Regions from separate parts of the Homo sapiens genome. Here region 1 is linked to region 2. A link means that fine-mapping ties the variant in region 2 to the expression of a gene that starts in the linked region. Tissue or cell type: whole blood. Region 2 holds a variant in brackets; the other region holds the start of a gene. All regions are shown on one strand. Distances are between the middles of the regions.

Region 1 (8,174 bases), 26 kb before region 2:
GGGAAACAGCAAGCAGCTTCCATGGAGGCTGTGAGAATCAGGTGCTTCCAGAAAGGGGCTGTGGCCAACTGGGCTGCATGCTTCTGAGAGGCTCTGGGAGCTGAGGACAGAAGCGTGTTCACTGGACTTGGCAGCAGGGAGGGTGTTAGTGACTTGACAAAAGTAGTTTCAGTTGAAGGGGAAACGGAAGCCAGGTTGGAATGGATTGGAGAGAGAATGAAAGGTAAGGAAGTCAAGACAGCTGGTGTAGACACTTTCCAAGAAGTTTTACTGTGAAGAGGAAAGAAAAATAGGGCAATAGATGCAGGGAGGTGTGGGGCCAGGAGAATAGTTTTGTCACCACTGCCATTGTTTTTAAAGTGGGGGACACTAGAGTCTGTTCACAGATGGGGAGAGGTGGATGGGCAGTAGAGAGAGGGCACCTGGAGAGGTCTTTGAGAAGCAAGAGGGGCTGGGGTCCTGAGCCCCAGGAAAGCCTGACCCTTGCTTCTTATTATTATTCTAACAGGATAGAGGAAGACGGGGTGGGATGGGGAGATGGTTCTGTGGATTTGACAGTGTGTGTGTAGTGGTTCTTCCTTCCTCAGGGAAGACCATCAGCTGGGAGGCTCATGGGGAGGAGCGCGGAGGTCTGAGGAAAGAGGAGAAGGCATGAAATAGTTGTTTTCAAAAAGTGGAAAAGTGAGCCTACCAGAAAAATCCACACTACAGGGCTGGCAGGATTGAGGACAAACCCAGAATATGTGACCATGAATTTACGGTGAGCTCAGCCTAGTCATACCATTTCCCCAGCCACATTTCTCCAGCTCGGGGCTGACTTTGGAAAACCAGAGCTGGGGACATGCAGTTAGGGGTTCCCCAGGACTGTGTGATAGAAGGAGAGAGATCCCTCCTTCTGGGATCTCTCCCTGGGAGCTGTGGAGGAGGGACCAGAATGATGATCTTCTAAGTAAGCCTAGATGAGGAGGGACATGAAGTCAGAAGCAGGTGGAAAGGGAGAAAGTGCAGGGTCAAAGAACTGAAAGTGCCCAAAGATTATAGCAACCGGGCCCCTGAGCCAGGAGCTGAGAAGGTGGCAGGGGCAAAGGAAGAGTTTGAAGTGGTGATTTCAGAGGAGATATGGTTTCTGGTTATGATTTAGGTTCAGGGTATGCTTAAAGGAGAAAAGAGCTAAGGTAGAGTGTCCCTGTGATTCACTCACTTATTCATTTGATAAACTTTTATTGAGCTGGTGACACAAACAAGGGGAGAGTTCCACCCAGCCAGGGTACCCAGGGAGGGCTTCCTGGAGGAGGTGGTTCTTGTGTGGGTTGAGTCTAGAAAGATGAATGGAAGCTCTCCAGGGAGACAAAGAAGATGGGTGCTCTGGGAGGAGAGCAAACCACAAGCAAAGGCATGGGGGTTAGGGCAGGGGGGTGGAAAACAGCTTGGCCCATTTGTGAAAATGGAGGTAGCATGGCCAGAGGATGCGGGAAGGGTAGGCAATGAGGCAGGGATCTGATCATGGAGGGCCTTGGGAGCCCTGGGTAGGGCTTAGGACGTACTCCTAAGCAGTGGAAAGCCATTGAAGATTTAAGCAGGGGGTGAAATTTGTGACTTTACAAATATTTATGGCAGTCTAGGGGAGAGCCTGGTGGGAGGTGTTTCTTTGGTTGGTTTTTGAGACAGGGTCTCACTCTGTCACCCAGGCTGGAGGACAGTGGCACCATCATGGCTCACTGCAGCCTCGAACTCCTGAGCTTAAGGGATCCTCCTGCCTTCGTAGCTGGGACTACAGGAGCATGTCACCACGCGGGGAGGTTATTTGAACAGAACAGGTGAGGGGTGGAGGGTGGAGAGGGCAGTGACACTGGAGAGGGAGCATCAGTAGGGTGTGGAACTGGCCAGATCTACCACCATGATGCTTCGGGCAGCCACCAACCAAAGCCAGCTTCAGCAAGTGGAACCAGTGAGGACATTCCTCCCCTCACATTACAAAACAGCCAGACCTCAGGGGTAATGGAGGAGTAGGAGAAGAGGAAATTAGGAGGAAGTGAACATTTTGAAGGGAGAGGTGTACGCTGTGCAAAGAAAACAGGCTGCAGAGCAGGCCCCAGAGAAGAAGCATCTTCCAGGGGCAGGGAAGGGGCAGGTCCCAGAGCAGAGCTGGGGAGAGTGGCCGGACGCACAGGTGATGTCCTGCTCCCAAGAAGAAAGGCGGTGTGCGGTGTGGGAAGCTCAGGAGGGCCAGCGGGGAAGAAAACACTGGATCTGTCCCCTGGGGAGCTCTGGTGACTCAGGTGAGAGTCATTTCCTCGAGTGCTGGGGTTGGGAGCCAGACTATGTGTCTGTGGGCTTTTGTGGCCCTACTTGGGCTCGTGTAATGAAAAGAGTGAGCAGTATCAGGACAGGAGGATCATCACAGCAGGGACTGCAGACTGGGTGGGTGCACAGCAGCCCTGGGGTCTCTTCAAGGCCATCTGGCTGGTTGGCGCCTTCTGTGTAGTGACAAGCAGCATGTGGGGGTGTACGTGGAGTGGGTGATGGGGAGGAAGGTGGCAAGGTATATGACAGAGCTGTGAGATGCAACTGGGAAGGTCTGCATGTGGGGTGGCTCCAGGCCGGGTGTGCGTGCATGTGCCTGTGTGTGCAAGTGTGTGCACATGCACGCCCACGCTCACGACAGGGGCCAGTGAGCAGCTGAGGGCAGGGTTGGCAGGAATAAGCAGAGTCATCCCCGTGGAAACACGACTCCCTGGGTGCTGTAAGGAGCAGCTGGGAGCCAGGCACAAGGGCGTGGCCAGCTCTGCCCAGTGGCTCTGGCCTCTCCCTGGCCACCCTCCCCACCTGTTGAGCAAGCCTGAGAAGCGCCCGTGCTGACCAGGGCAGGGGCGCTGCTGCAAGGGTCAAGGCCCACTGGGAGAGGTCCACCCTCAGGTGTGGCTTTGGGGGTCTCTAGGGGTCTGTCCAGGTCCCTGTGGTGCAGGGGTGGCTCCAGGTCTGTCCATGTGGGTCTGGCAGTGGCTGCCTGCAGCTGGTCTGCAGGGGTCTCACTGCAACTGCCTGCTGATGTGGTCATTCCCCCAGGGCCATTTGCAATAAGTGATCCCCCTTCCCTTCCACAGGAATAGGCTCTGGAGGGCTGGGCAGAAGGGGAGAGGGGCCAGGTGGGGCCCAGACCACACAATGCTCACAGGCATCAAAGGCTCCTTGTGGATGCCCCTTCCCCCAATCCAGCTTGTGCTGGGACCACCAGCCAAAAGCAGTCCCCAGGAGCTCTAGCCCTGCCCCCACCATTGGAGTTGTCCATCTCCTTGTCCCTGTGACCTTCCCTGTACGTCTTCTCTTCCACGTTAGCACCTGCAGCTCTCCAGATGCAATGTTCCTCTCCCAGTTCACCCTGCCTGCCCAGTGGGCTAGAGCCCCCAGGGCTGTGGGAGGGAACTGCTAGGAGACCCCTGCCGGGCCCAGGGCCCTTTCTTCTTCCCTCTCCCAGCCCAACACCAAGTACCCCAAAGATCAGGAAAGAGGAATCCACACCCACCCCCATCTTTCTTTTCCCTTCCCTCCAGGCCAGGGATGGCAAACACAGGCAGAGGCACCACGGTCTTCCTCCTTGCGCCCCTGGCAGACATCACTAATCAATCACAGCAACCTTTTTGCACAGAGCCTGGCTGCCACCTTCATGGTCTCCACCTACATCTCCAGGTGGCCAATATCAGGATCCACGTCGGCCCTCAGGGTGAAGTCCCTGTGCCAGTCCCACTTTGATCTAACCCCCCAACCAGGCCCCTCATCCTGGCCTATCCAGAGGTCGCCTGAGCACAGCCAGCTGTGGTTCTCTCTCTGTCCCATTAGGCTGAAGCCACACAGTTCCCGGAGCTTGGGCCCAGGAGGCAGTCGAAGGCACTGGGGTGTTGACCCCAAGTCCCAAGGCCACAAAGAATCTGGTTGGTTTGCCGTCGGTCCTGAGGGCAGCCGCTGCCACTTCTGGGGAAAGTGTGGTGGGGGGGCCAGGGGTGATGCTCTGTGCCCAGCACCTGTGCAGCAGCAGCACCTTGCAGGCACATCTCCCAGTCCTGATAGAGTCTGCACGCCCACCTCCCCGGCTCGGCCACTGGGCAAGCAGGAGGTGAGGAGTGGACGGCCCGCCCAGGGAGGGGCGGCCGCCCAGCACCCCGGGGCTGCGCACTGCAGCTCCCCAGGCCACCCACCACCCTTCTGGTCTCTGAGCCCAGGATGCGAGGATGGCCAGACCATCTCTGTGCACCCTGGTGCCTCTGGGCCCTGAGTGCTTGCGCCCCTTCACCCGGGAGTCACTGGCAGCCATAGAACAGCGGGCGGTGGAGGAGGAGGCCCGGCTGCAGCGGAATAAGCAGATGGAGATTGAGGAGCCCGAACGGAAGCCACGAAGTGACTTGGAGGCTGGCAAGAACCTACCCATGATCTACGGAGACCCCCCGCCGGAGGTCATCGGCATCCCCCTGGAGGACCTGGATCCCTACTACAGCAATAAGAAGGTCTGGGCCTGGGAAGGCTTCCTCTGTCTGTCTGCCATCCATCCATCTGTCTGCCTGTCTGTCTGTCCCTGGGTCTCACAGCCTCTCTCCCACCTTAGACCTTCATCGTACTCAACAAGGGCAAGGCCATCTTCCGCTTCTCCGCCACACCTGCTCTCTACCTGCTGAGCCCCTTCAGCGTAGTCAGGCGCGGGGCCATCAAGGTGCTCATCCATGCATATCCTGCCCAAGATGGGAGAGGCGGGAGGGGTTAGGGATGGGCGAGATGGGGTGCTGTGGCCCAGGAGACCCTCTATCACCTCCCATCCTAGCTGCTTCCTCACTTTCCTTGACCCTGCCCCACGCTGTTCAGCATGTTCATCATGATCACCATCTTGACCAACTGCGTATTCATGACCATGAGTGACCCGCCTCCCTGGTCCAAGAATGTGGAGTAAGTCTCCCTGCTCCCTGAGCTCCCCAGCCCTGGGACACAGCCCATCTCAGGTGTTTGCACCTCTGTGTGGTGCTGCTCTTGTCTTTCAGGGAGACACACTGTCATTGTGACCCTCATCCACACCTTGAGTCCCTGGGGTGGCCATGCTATCACTCGCTAGTGTCCTTAGCCACCTGAGTGGCATATTTCATTTCTGTGTCCCTCCCTTCTGGGGGTCTGTCGTTGCCACACTGACCCCTACCCAGGTGACATGCCTGTCCCGGCCGGCCCTCTCCCCCCCAGGTACACCTTCACAGGGATCTACACCTTTGAGTCCCTCATCAAGATACTGGCCCGAGGCTTCTGTGTCGACGACTTCACATTCCTCCGGGACCCCTGGAACTGGCTGGACTTCAGTGTCATCATGATGGCGTGAGCAGGGGCCCCAGGACATCCTGAGGCTGGGGTGGGTGAGGGGAGGGGGCCAGGCCTTAAAGAGGGAAGCTGCCTGGGCTGAGGGCTGCAGGGGACATCGGTCAGTTGTGCAGATGGGGAGCTGCACAATTCTAGAAGCTGCCATTCTCAGGGTCTGGCTCAGCACTCTCCTGATGGACTCCTGATAATCACATGAGGCAGCCCTGACCCACAGACCCATGGGTCCTCACCTGCTGGGTGAGCCGGGCTATCTTTGCCATCCCCACTCCCCCAGAGCTCCTGCACTGTCCTTCCCAACCCTTGGGCTCCCAGAGGAGCTTTGGGGGTGTCTGCCCTGCCCCCCAGACCCTGTGGTACCCCCAATTTCTTGGGAATCCTCATCCCAGGCCTGGAGGAGCCCTGATTTCTGTCCTACCACCCACCCCAGGCTCTGACAGTCCCCACCCCCCTCCACCCCCTACCCAGGTACCTGACAGAGTTTGTGGACTTGGGCAACATCTCAGCCCTGAGGACCTTCCGGGTGCTGCGGGCCCTCAAAACCATCACGGTCATCCCAGGTACTGGGGAGGTGCAGGGACCCTCTGCCTGAGCTGAGAGACCCCCGTACCATGTGCAGGCCTGGAACCTGACTCAGTGTCACAACACTCCCAGGCTGGTGTTTTTGTAGAACTCACAGCAAAGCCTGGACATACAGGGGCCCACGTGACCAGAGGGCAGATGGGGTCCTACATGGAAGGATGGGCGTTTGAGAGGCAGCATGGCAAGTTGGTTAAGAGCACAGACTCAGCTGGGCATGGTGGCTCACGCCTATAATCCCAGCACTTTGGGAGGCCAAGGCAAGTGGATCAACTAAGGTCAGGAGTTTGAGACCAGCCTGGCCAACAAGACAAAACCCTGTCTCTACTAAAAATACAAAAATTAGCCTGGCATGGTGGTGTGCACCTGTAGTCCCATCTACTCAGGAGGCTGAGGCAGGAGAATCACTTGAACCTGGGAAACAGAGGTGGCAGTCAGCCGAGATCACGCCACTGCACTCCAGCCTAGGCAACACAGTGAGATTCCATCTCAAAAAAAAAAAAGAAAACAAATTAGCTGGGCCTGGTTATGCTCTCCTATAGTCCCAGCTACTTGGGAGGCTAAGGCGGGAGGATAGTTTGAGCCCAGGAGATCAAGCCTGCTATGAGCTGTAATTTTGCCACTGCACTCCAGCCTGGGAAAAAGAACAAGACTCTGTCTCAAAAGAAAAAAGCACAGATTCTGGAGCCTGACTGCCTGGGTTCAATTCTCACCTTTACCACTTCCTAACTTTAACTTTGGGCAAGTGCCTCGCCCTGTCCATGTCTCAGTTTCCTTATCTGTGGCATATGGAGACTCATAGTACCACTCCTTGGATTGTTGTAAGGATTAAATGCCTTAATATCTGTAAGGCCCTCACAGCCCCTGGCCCATGGTTTGTGATATACACGTGTGTGCTCAATAAAATAAGCAGACAGAGCAGAGAAGAGAGAGACACAAAAAGGCTCCATGAGGAAAAGTCCAAGCTCTGAGAGCTCAATTAGGAACACACCAGGCACCTGCTGAGCAATAAGGTCAGAGCAATTCCAAAGTAATGCATCAACAAGCATGAAATCAATAGAATCCGAACATTCAGACCTGCAAAAGAGCATGTGGAGAAACTGGAGATTCTCTCCCAGTAAAGGAGAGAAAGAAAAAGGATAGAGATCAGGCTCTGGGAAGAGGGAAAATTGTTAAATCCTAATATGAGAAAGTACCTGAGGCCAGGTGTGGTGGCCCATACCTGTAATCCCAGCACTTTGGGAGGCCGAGACAGGTGAATCACTTGGGGTCAGGACTCTGAGACCAGCCTGGCCAACGTGGTGAAACCCCGTCTCTACTCAAAATACAAAAATTAGCTGGGCGTGGTGGCATGTGCCTGTAATCCCAGCTACCTGGGAGGCTGAGCAGGAGAATCACTTGAATCGAGGAGGCAGAAGTTGCAGTGAGCCGAGATCACACCACTGCACTCCAGCCTGGGCGACAGAGCGAGACTCTATCTCAAAAAAAAAAGAAAAGAAAAGAAAAGAAAGTAAGAAAGAAAGTACCTGAGCTATCTTCTAGTCTAAAGCCCTCTGACTGCAGCCGAGGAAGGTGTGAGACCCAGGAGAGGAAGCACTTCCCAAATTCCACACTGTACATTGGCCACTGAGCCAAGACGGCATTGCCTTTCCTCTGTGCCAGCTGCCAGCATCCTCGGGGCGCAGGAGGGCTTTTATAAGGAGGCTGCCGAGCATTTGTTTTCCATATCAGGATAAGAAAAGGAAATGAAGTCATATTAACGCAAGAGGCACTACGATTAGGCCCAAGGAAGAAGTTACGGCTCTTCCACAGGTGATGGGAACCTGCCCCTGGGATTATTTCAGCATCGTTTATGCCTTTGTCTGTCTAAAGAATATAATGATGTTTCAAGTTCAGTCTAGAGCTTCTGCTGTTCCTCGGGTGCTACTAGGCATTTTAAGGAAAAGGGTTCTGTGGTCAAATATGTTAAGGATACGTGGGATTAAAGTTTTTGTTTAATAGGCCAGGTGAGGTGGCTCATGCCTGTAATCCCAGCATTTTGGGAGGCTGAGGCAGGCTGATTACTTGAGGCCAGGAGTTCGAGACCAGCCTGTCCAACATAGCGAAACCTCATCCCTACTAAAAGTACCAAAAAAATGAGCTGGGTGTGGTGGCATGCACCTGTAATCCCAGCTACTTGGGAGGCTGAGGCAGGAGAATCACTTGAACCCAGGAGGCAGAGGTTGCAGTGAGCCAAGATCACGCCACTG
Region 2 (8,174 bases):
CTAGGACGAGGGCCCCTGCCCACCCCTGCACCATCAGCCTGAGCCTAATGAACTTTGCCCTGAAAGCTTTTGACTCCTTATTCCCCCCAAATATGCTGGCTTACCAGGAAGCGAGTGCCTGTGAGCTATAAATACCCAGGCAACTGTGGCACAGACCTCGGTATGAGGCACTCAGGTGGCGGGGGAGCTGGAGAGCACCAAAGTCCCAGGCTCCCCGGGGCCGGGGCCGGGGCCTGGGGACTTGTTCAAGGAGGGCGAGCACAACTCCAAGGGAGATTTAGGGAGTTGAGTGCACAATCGGGGCAAGCAACTCAGTGGATGCCCTGGCTGACCTAACACTCTGTGCCTCAGTTTCCCTTTTAGTCTAATGAAAACAAGGACCCCCACCCCGGCCATGGTGGTTTTCTGGTCACCACTCTGGATACAGAGCTGCCCCCCAAGTTGCCCTCTTCTTCCTTCTCTTCAGAGGCCTCACCCTCAGCCTTGAAGGGGTCCCCTGCCGGGTGGAGTCTGGGGCCGGGAAGCTGGCCTGGCCCAGCAGGAGGAGGTGGGAGGAAGCCTGGCCCGGCTGGAGCACCCGCCTCCCCCACTCCCGCTCCCAACACTGATCAGGTTCCCTTGGCACTGGATGGAGGCTTTGGCTGGGGAACATTTTCCACCCTTTCTGGATTCCTCAGCCAAACAGACCCTGCGGGTGGGAAGGCTCAGACGCTAGGGGCACCACACGCCCATGTTCTGAGGGCTGTGATAGCCTGGCTCCATCCTGACCCCTTTTCATACCCCTGCCCCCTCAGAGCTACCTTCAGGCCCCCCATGCCTCCCAGACCCCCCACTCGGGCCGGGGTCCCCGCCTCCTCCCTTATCTGAGGCCTTCGCATGTGTCCTCATGCCCTTACCGTCCCTTCCCAGGCATCAGCCCCGCCCCACTCCTTATATAAGTGTCATGCGGGCATGACCAGGGCCACCTACGTCCCCGTGGTTCCTCGACCATCCAGGGCTGGATGAATGAATGAATGGATGAGTTTGCTCCTCCCTCTCTTCTTCCCTTCCCTTCTGGTCTCCCATCCTGCCCCATCTGGTAGGAGGATGAGGGGGTCTCTCAGGGACCCAGATGTCATGTGACCCTGTGGCCTCCGCAGAAGCCGCCGCAGCCTCTCTATGATGGGAACTCGTCCGTCTGCAGCACAGCTGACTACAAGCCCCCCGAGGAGGACCCTGAGGAGCAGGCAGAGGAGAACCCCGAGGGGGAGCAGCCTGAGGAGTGCTTCACTGAGGGTGAGGGCACCCCTCACCTCATCTGGGTGTCTCCCCCAGGCCTGCAGCCCCTGCAAGGGGCAGGCTACACCAGGACCAAAAGCACACGGACCTGGGGCTGCCTGGCCATCCCCGTGCCTCACGTGTCTAGGGGTGGTGGCAGTGCATGCCCAGAACTGTGGTGCAAGATCCATGCAGAGCCCTTGGTGCAGACCTAGCTTGGAGCCAACGTGCAGGAGTGTGGGTGTCAGCTCCTGAGATCCTCCCCTCCATCTTCAGGGAGCAAGGCCTTCAGGACATGGCACTGGAGAAATGTCCTTGTCCATAGAGCTTGCTGGGCTGTGCAGGATGGAGACCGCCTGGGCGAGGTGGGGGGTGGGGCAGCACTGGGGCTGGGGGCCAGGAGGCCTTTCCTCTGCATGCCCATCCCCAGCAGCCATTGACGCATGTTGGATCCAGCTGTGAAGGGAGGTCCTGAGTCCCCCATGTGAGCCAGATGGAGCTGGGTGAGGGAGGAGGTGGGGGCCCTGGGTCTGGGAGCTGGAGAGGGGCATCCTGGGATGCCATGGGAGGGCGCTGACTGTGCACCCCAAGGCAACCCCAGGCCCATGATGTGGTGCCTGTCCCTGTCCCCCCTCACCCCATCAGCCTGCGTGCAGCGCTGGCCCTGCCTCTACGTGGACATCTCCCAGGGCCGTGGGAAGAAGTGGTGGACTCTGCGCAGGGCCTGCTTCAAGATTGTCGAGCACAACTGGTTCGAGACCTTCATTGTCTTCATGATCCTGCTCAGCAGTGGGGCTCTGGTAGGCACTGCCTGGGAGCACGGGTCAGGGGCAGGGGCCAGGCCCACAGCAGGTCCTCTTGGGGCTCCCTGTCTCCACACACAGGAAGGGCCATGCTCTGGTCAGTCCCAAACCCTGAGAATCCTAAAGGAACTCGCTGTGCCTCCGGGATAGGTTATAGGATGTGCTGACTTTCTAACATGGCAGAGGTGCCTCCCTTATTACGTGGGTGCTGACTTTTGTGCACTCTCTGCTGATAAGGAGGCAGGAGACCCCTGGGAACTGGGGGCGCAGGACTGAAGATGTGTCACTGTGGACCTGCCCAGCAGATGATGGCAATTTGCTGTTGTTGGGCTTGGAGAAGGGGGGCTGAGGGATTCTCCCCACTGGGAAACGCTCTCATCCCCATGATGGGTGGTGGGAGTCCAGGAGATGCGGACAGCCTGTCCCTTGGGCTGGGCCCCCACGGCAGACCCCCGGGAACCAGCAGCATAGAGCAGGGCAGGGGACCTGGCTGCCACCCCAGCCTGCTGGACCCCAGCCACCCTGGTGGTGCTGGTGCCCCCAGGCCTTCGAGGACATCTACATTGAGCAGCGGCGAGTCATTCGCACCATCCTAGAATATGCCGACAAGGTCTTCACCTACATCTTCATCATGGAGATGCTGCTCAAATGGGTGGCCTACGGCTTTAAGGTGTACTTCACCAACGCCTGGTGCTGGCTCGACTTCCTCATCGTGGATGTGAGTCCCCCCACGCTGGCCCCGTAGCTACATCCAGAGGCTGTCAGTGTGGCGGGGACCTCAGGAAGCCCACGCCCTGAAGGGCAGGACCTGCCCGAGGCCACCCCCAGAGTCAGACCCTCAATCAGTGCTGCCCTTCTCAGACAGAGCTGCCCAGGGAGGGGTTAGGGACTGGGAGGCCTTCCCTTCTCCTCAGGGAAAGGAGGCCTTGGGGGAAGACAGCAGGCAGGAGGGCTACTTACCATCCCTGCCAATAGGAGTGGAGGAGTTTCTTACTTCATACATTTTATTTATTTATTTTTAAGATGGGATCTTGCTATGTTGCCCAGGCTGGTCTTGAACTCCTGGGCTCAAGCAATCCTCCTACCTTGGCCTCCCAAAGTGCTGGGATTACAGGTGTGAGCCACCATGCCCGGCCAGGAATGGAGGATTTTCTTAGCCTCTTAGATGGGCTCACAGGCCTCCCCGAAGGAGTCGGGTACCATCCCTCCTACTCACAGTCATCCCCAGTTGGTTGATGACATCACTGAGGTGGTGCCAGGCTCCTACAGGTACTGGGACAGGTCCCAGGGCTGCTCTTCCCACCGGACAGGACCACCCACTAGGGAGGGGATCTAAGGGAGACAACCAGGAGCTGTGAGTCCAGGAAGACCCCCGTGGCCTGGGCTTGAGGGGAGGCTGGGGGCCTTGCACGCACTGATCCCCTCACCCCTCCCCTGCAGGTCTCCATCATCAGCTTGGTGGCCAACTGGCTGGGCTACTCGGAGCTGGGACCCATCAAATCCCTGCGGACACTGCGGGCCCTGCGTCCCCTGAGGGCACTGTCCCGATTCGAGGGCATGAGGGTGGGTGCTGAAGGGGCCTCTGGGGTGGGCTGGGGATGGGGGACCGGCCACCTTCACTGCAGGGTGGAGGGTGCATGTCTATACTCCAACCACCACCAGAG[G/A]GAAGCAGAGAGCTTGGACCCACGGCCCTGCCTGAGGCCAGGTCTGGCCCCCACCTCCCCTAGCTGTCCTCCCCGCAGGCCATCTTCTGCCTGCCCCATTCCCACTCTCAGCCCCCGATCCAGCCCGCCCTTAGCTTACCTCTGCCACTACTTGAGGGGAGCAGAGACTGCAGAAGCACCCAGGAGGGCCCCACGGCCAGGGAAGAGGAGGAAGGAAGGCAGGTTTATGTGGTGTTTATGGGTGGTTTATGAGTGGGTTTATGGGTGGCCCTCCCCAGCCTCAGACTGAGCCACCCAGGGCTTTGAAACAAGGTGCCTGCACCCTGGCTCTGAGCCTTCCCCTCACCCCCCACTGATGAGCTTGGCGTCACGGTTGGGGCCATGCCCTTGAGCTTGGGGTCAGTTTGGGGAAGATCCACTCAGGCCCTGGAGAGCGGAAGTGGCAGGTAAACACAGGGTTGCGGCGGGGTGGGGGGGGGGGCAAGAAAAATGGGACTTCCCCAGGAAGAGAGATCTGCTGGGAGCAAGACCTGCTCCAGCGGGACAAATTTCTGCAAATCTAGAGGCCATGGCGAGCCCCCCCAAGCGGCCCCTTCCTGTCCCTGCAAGAGGCCAGCCGAATGCTGGGCCCTCTGACCCCCCAGAGCCAGGGAGCCCTCCCGTTGAGGGGAAACAAGCTGCCTGTGGCCATGCAGCTGGTCAGTGCCCCAACCAGGAACAGAGCTCCCCTGGGCACACCAGGCTTGTGCCACCCACTCTAGAGGTCATGAAATGGCTCCTCCTTAAAAAGAGAGGGGTGTCAGATCCAGCCCAGTCTGCAGTGGTCAGGTGGGCTGTGTGACTAGGGCTGGTGGGGATGGGGCTTCTGTCCCAGAGCTCCTGCTGCTTCAAAGACCCTGGTGCCCTCTTTTCTGTGCCTGTGTCTGGGGCTCTGGGGCTGAAAACCCATGAGCAGGGGCTGGGTCACGTGAGCTGAGTTTCCTATGGGGGCTGAGCAAAGAGTGTTTGTCTCCTGCCTGGTGACCTGTGACCAGGCTGCTTCCAGAGAAACCCAGCACCCCTACTCTGGGCTGATGGCTCCAGTCAAGCAGAGAGCCCTCTTGACCACCAGGCCTGCAGCTCCCTCCCCCTCCCCCTTACCACCCCCAACCTGCACACACACAGCCCAGCAGGTCGGCCCTCCTCTAGGAAGCCCTCCCTAATTGACAATGCCCAGCTCTGCCTGGTCCCCTGGGTGGCGTAGAGATGTGGAGCCCTCTCTCAGAGGCTGGGAGAGGCACTGGCAATGGACCCCCTGGCCCCCAGGTGGTGGTGAACGCCCTCCTAGGCGCCATCCCCTCCATCATGAATGTGCTGCTTGTCTGCCTCATCTTCTGGCTGATCTTCAGCATCATGGGTGTCAACCTGTTTGCCGGCAAGTTCTACTACTGCATCAACACCACCACCTCTGAGAGGTTCGACATCTCCGAGGTCAACAACAAGTCTGAGTGCGAGAGCCTCATGCACACAGGCCAGGTCCGCTGGCTCAATGTCAAGGTCAACTACGACAACGTGGGTCTGGGCTACCTCTCCCTCCTGCAGGTGGTGAGTGTGACCCACCACCCCTGCCGGGAACCTGGATGGAGGTGCCCCCCACCCCGGTCCTCTCGTTGTACCCAACCCCAGTGTCACTCCTGGTTAGGGGACCGCCCACCCTGCTTCCAATGCTGTGGGATCCCCAGGCAGTGTCTAGACCTCTCTGGTCTTTATTTGATGCTAGCCCAGTGGGGCTCTGGCAGGCGGCCTCTGGCAGGGGAGGACCAGGTTGGGTGGGGGAGGGAAACTCATGGATGATGAAAGCAGGGAGCAGCCCCCCGGCTCACTCCCCAACCACACTCTCTCAGGCCACCTTCAAGGGTTGGATGGACATCATGTATGCAGCCGTGGACTCCCGGGAGGTGAGTCGGGGTCGCTGAGATGTGGCTGGTGAGCGAGCCAGGGAAGAGGACTCAAGACAGGAGGGAGACTTGGCAGCACGTTCTGTCCCCGAGACTTGGCAGCCCTGGGGGTGGATGGGTCCTGCCCTCAGGGCTGTGGGGGGCAGGGAGAAGCCAGCGTGCAAACCCACGCCGTCCCACCCTGTGGCTCCCACAGAAGGAGGAGCAGCCGCAGTACGAGGTGAACCTCTACATGTACCTCTACTTTGTCATCTTCATCATCTTTGGCTCCTTCTTCACCCTCAACCTCTTCATTGGCGTCATCATTGACAACTTCAACCAGCAGAAGAAGAAGATGAGTATCAGCCCAGCCCCTCGGGCCCTCCCGGTGCTGGGCCTCCCTCCTGCCTCCTTTGTCCACTCTCCATTGCACAAACCCACAAACGCTGCCTGAGCACCTACCAGGTTGTTGGTTCAGGCAGCTAGCTTGGGTCCCAGTCCCACCAGGCCACCTTGAACAAGTGGCTTGGCCTCCATGAACCTCGGTGTCCTTATCTGTAAAATGAGACTGCTGGGCCAGGCACGGTGGCTCATGCTTGTAATCCCAGCACTTTGGGAGGCCGAGGCGGGCGGATCACAAGGTCAGGAGTTCGAGACCACCCTGGCTAACGTGGTAAAACCCTGTCTATACTAAAAATACAAAAAAAATTAAAAAAAGAAATTAGCCAGGCGTGGTGGCAGGCATCTGTAATCCCAGCTACTCAGGAGGCTGAGGCAGGAGAATCGCTTAAACCCAGGAGATGGAGGTTGCAGTGGGCCAAGATCGCGCCACTGCACTCCAGCCTGGTGACAGAGCGAGACTCCATCTCAACAACAAAAAAAAAGACGAGGCTGCTACAACCTGCCTTGTGGGTTACTCTAGGGCTCAGCGAGATGTTGATGAAAAGTAGCCAGAAACAGGCTGCAAGACAGCATTGATCCCCACTCCCCTTCCCTCCCTTCTCCTCGGTCCCGCATTCTCCCCTTGTCCCTCCATCTCTGACCCTCCCGCTTCCTCCAGGCTGATCAACAGGGGCGGGGGCTGCCTTAAAGGTGAGGTGCCCCACTGAGGTGGGGGTGGTCCTGGAGGCAGGAAGGGGAACTGCACCTCAACCTGACAAGCCCTATCCCACTATACTTAGGGGGGAAAGACATCTTTATGACGGAGGAACAGAAGAAATACTATAACGCCATGAAGAAGCTTGGCTCCAAGAAGCCTCAGAAGCCAATTCCCCGGCCCCAGGTACAGACCTCTGGGCCCCCTGTCCTGTGTGTGCTGCCAGGCTCCTGCCTAGGGGACTGATGGGGGTAAAAGGTTTCCTGCCTTCCACCCACCAGGCTGTGTCCCTGGGTGAGGTTAGGCCCACCCCAGGGGCAGGGGACTTGGTCTACCTGCAGGGAGGGACGCCTCTTTGTAGTGCCACAGAGACACCATATGCACAGAGGCTGTCCATGAAACTCTAGTGAGTGCTTTACCCTCACTTGGTCCCACGAAGCTCCTCAGTGCCCACCTACCTCCCACCTGGGACCCCAGTGGCCCCTGGGGCAAGGGCTCCCACAAGTGGAAGGAGGAGGATGTCCAGACACCCTACCCAGGAGCAATGACTTTGGAAGAAAGGGGAGGAGCATCTGGGGGATCTTGAAGGGAGGACCATGAACCCCATAAAATGACCTGGTCCCAGACCTGTCATGATCTGATGGGTCACCCCTCCTCCCCTGGCTGACTCCACCACAACCCCCAACACCTCCTTTCTCTCTCTCTCTCTCTCTCTCTCTGTCATCTCTGTCATCTCTGTCATGCTGTGGTGCCATCCTGTGCCTCCTGCCTGTCCATGTCCTGTCTGGGCCTGGCCACCCCAACTCCTCCACATCCACTCCCACCCATGCTGCAGAACAAGATCCAGGGCATGGTGTATGACCTCGTGACGAAGCAGGCCTTCGACATCACCATCATGATCCTCATCTGCCTCAACATGGTCACCATGATGGTGGAGACAGACAACCAGAGCCAGCTCAAGGTGGACATCCTGTACAACATCAACATGATCTTCATCATCATCTTCACAGGGGAGTGCGTGCTCAAGATGCTCGCCCTGCGCCAGTACTACTTCACCGTTGGCTGGAACATCTTTGACTTCGTGGTCGTCATCCTGTCCATTGTGGGTGAGCGGGGCGGGCTGGACCGGCAGGGCAGCACTGAGCTGAGGCACTCGGGAAGACCCATCCTCACACGGACACACCTGCCCCTGCACCCTCACACGCTCACCCAGACACATGCCTGTGCGTGCCTGCCATTCACTCTCAATGCACAAAGGCACATGGTGTGCACACAGGCAGATCGTCACCCGCGCACACATGGATGCACCTCAGGACACACAACTGACCAGAAGACGTGCACTCAGGTGCCCACATACTGAGCGAAAAGTGTAAAAGATGGTTCCATGTCTGTGTGCACTGAGAAGTGCACAGTCATGCGTGTGCTTATGATAGAAAGT

The links. PIP is the estimated chance that this variant, and not a neighbour inherited with it, causes the effect.
Region 1: it holds the start of SCN4A, and the variant in region 2 is the best candidate, but not a certain one, in a credible set for the expression of SCN4A in whole blood (TOPMed, PIP 0.67).

The regions. Positions count from the first base shown.
Region 1 is chr17:63,968,894-63,977,067 of GRCh38, reverse strand. It overlaps SCN4A (sodium voltage-gated channel alpha subunit 4), which reads left to right and starts at 4,150. Exons shown (of 24, transcript NM_000334.4): 1 at 4,150-4,499; 2 at 4,598-4,716; 3 at 4,843-4,932; 4 at 5,218-5,346; 5 at 5,815-5,906. The coding sequence starts at 4,227.
Region 2 is chr17:63,942,494-63,950,667 of GRCh38, reverse strand. It overlaps SCN4A (sodium voltage-gated channel alpha subunit 4), which reads left to right. Exons shown (of 24, transcript NM_000334.4): 15 at 1,140-1,275; 16 at 1,903-2,057; 17 at 2,605-2,778; 18 at 3,501-3,623; 19 at 5,030-5,308; 20 at 5,608-5,661; 21 at 5,858-5,995; 22 at 6,818-6,922; 23 at 7,572-7,842. Among named protein-coding and RNA genes, the nearest start is that of CD79B, 14 kb to the right of the region's middle. RefSeq lists enhancers at 808-1,387, 1,388-1,969, 3,607-4,180 and an insulator at 1-4,815. The variant G/A (reference allele first, on the strand shown) is at 3,725.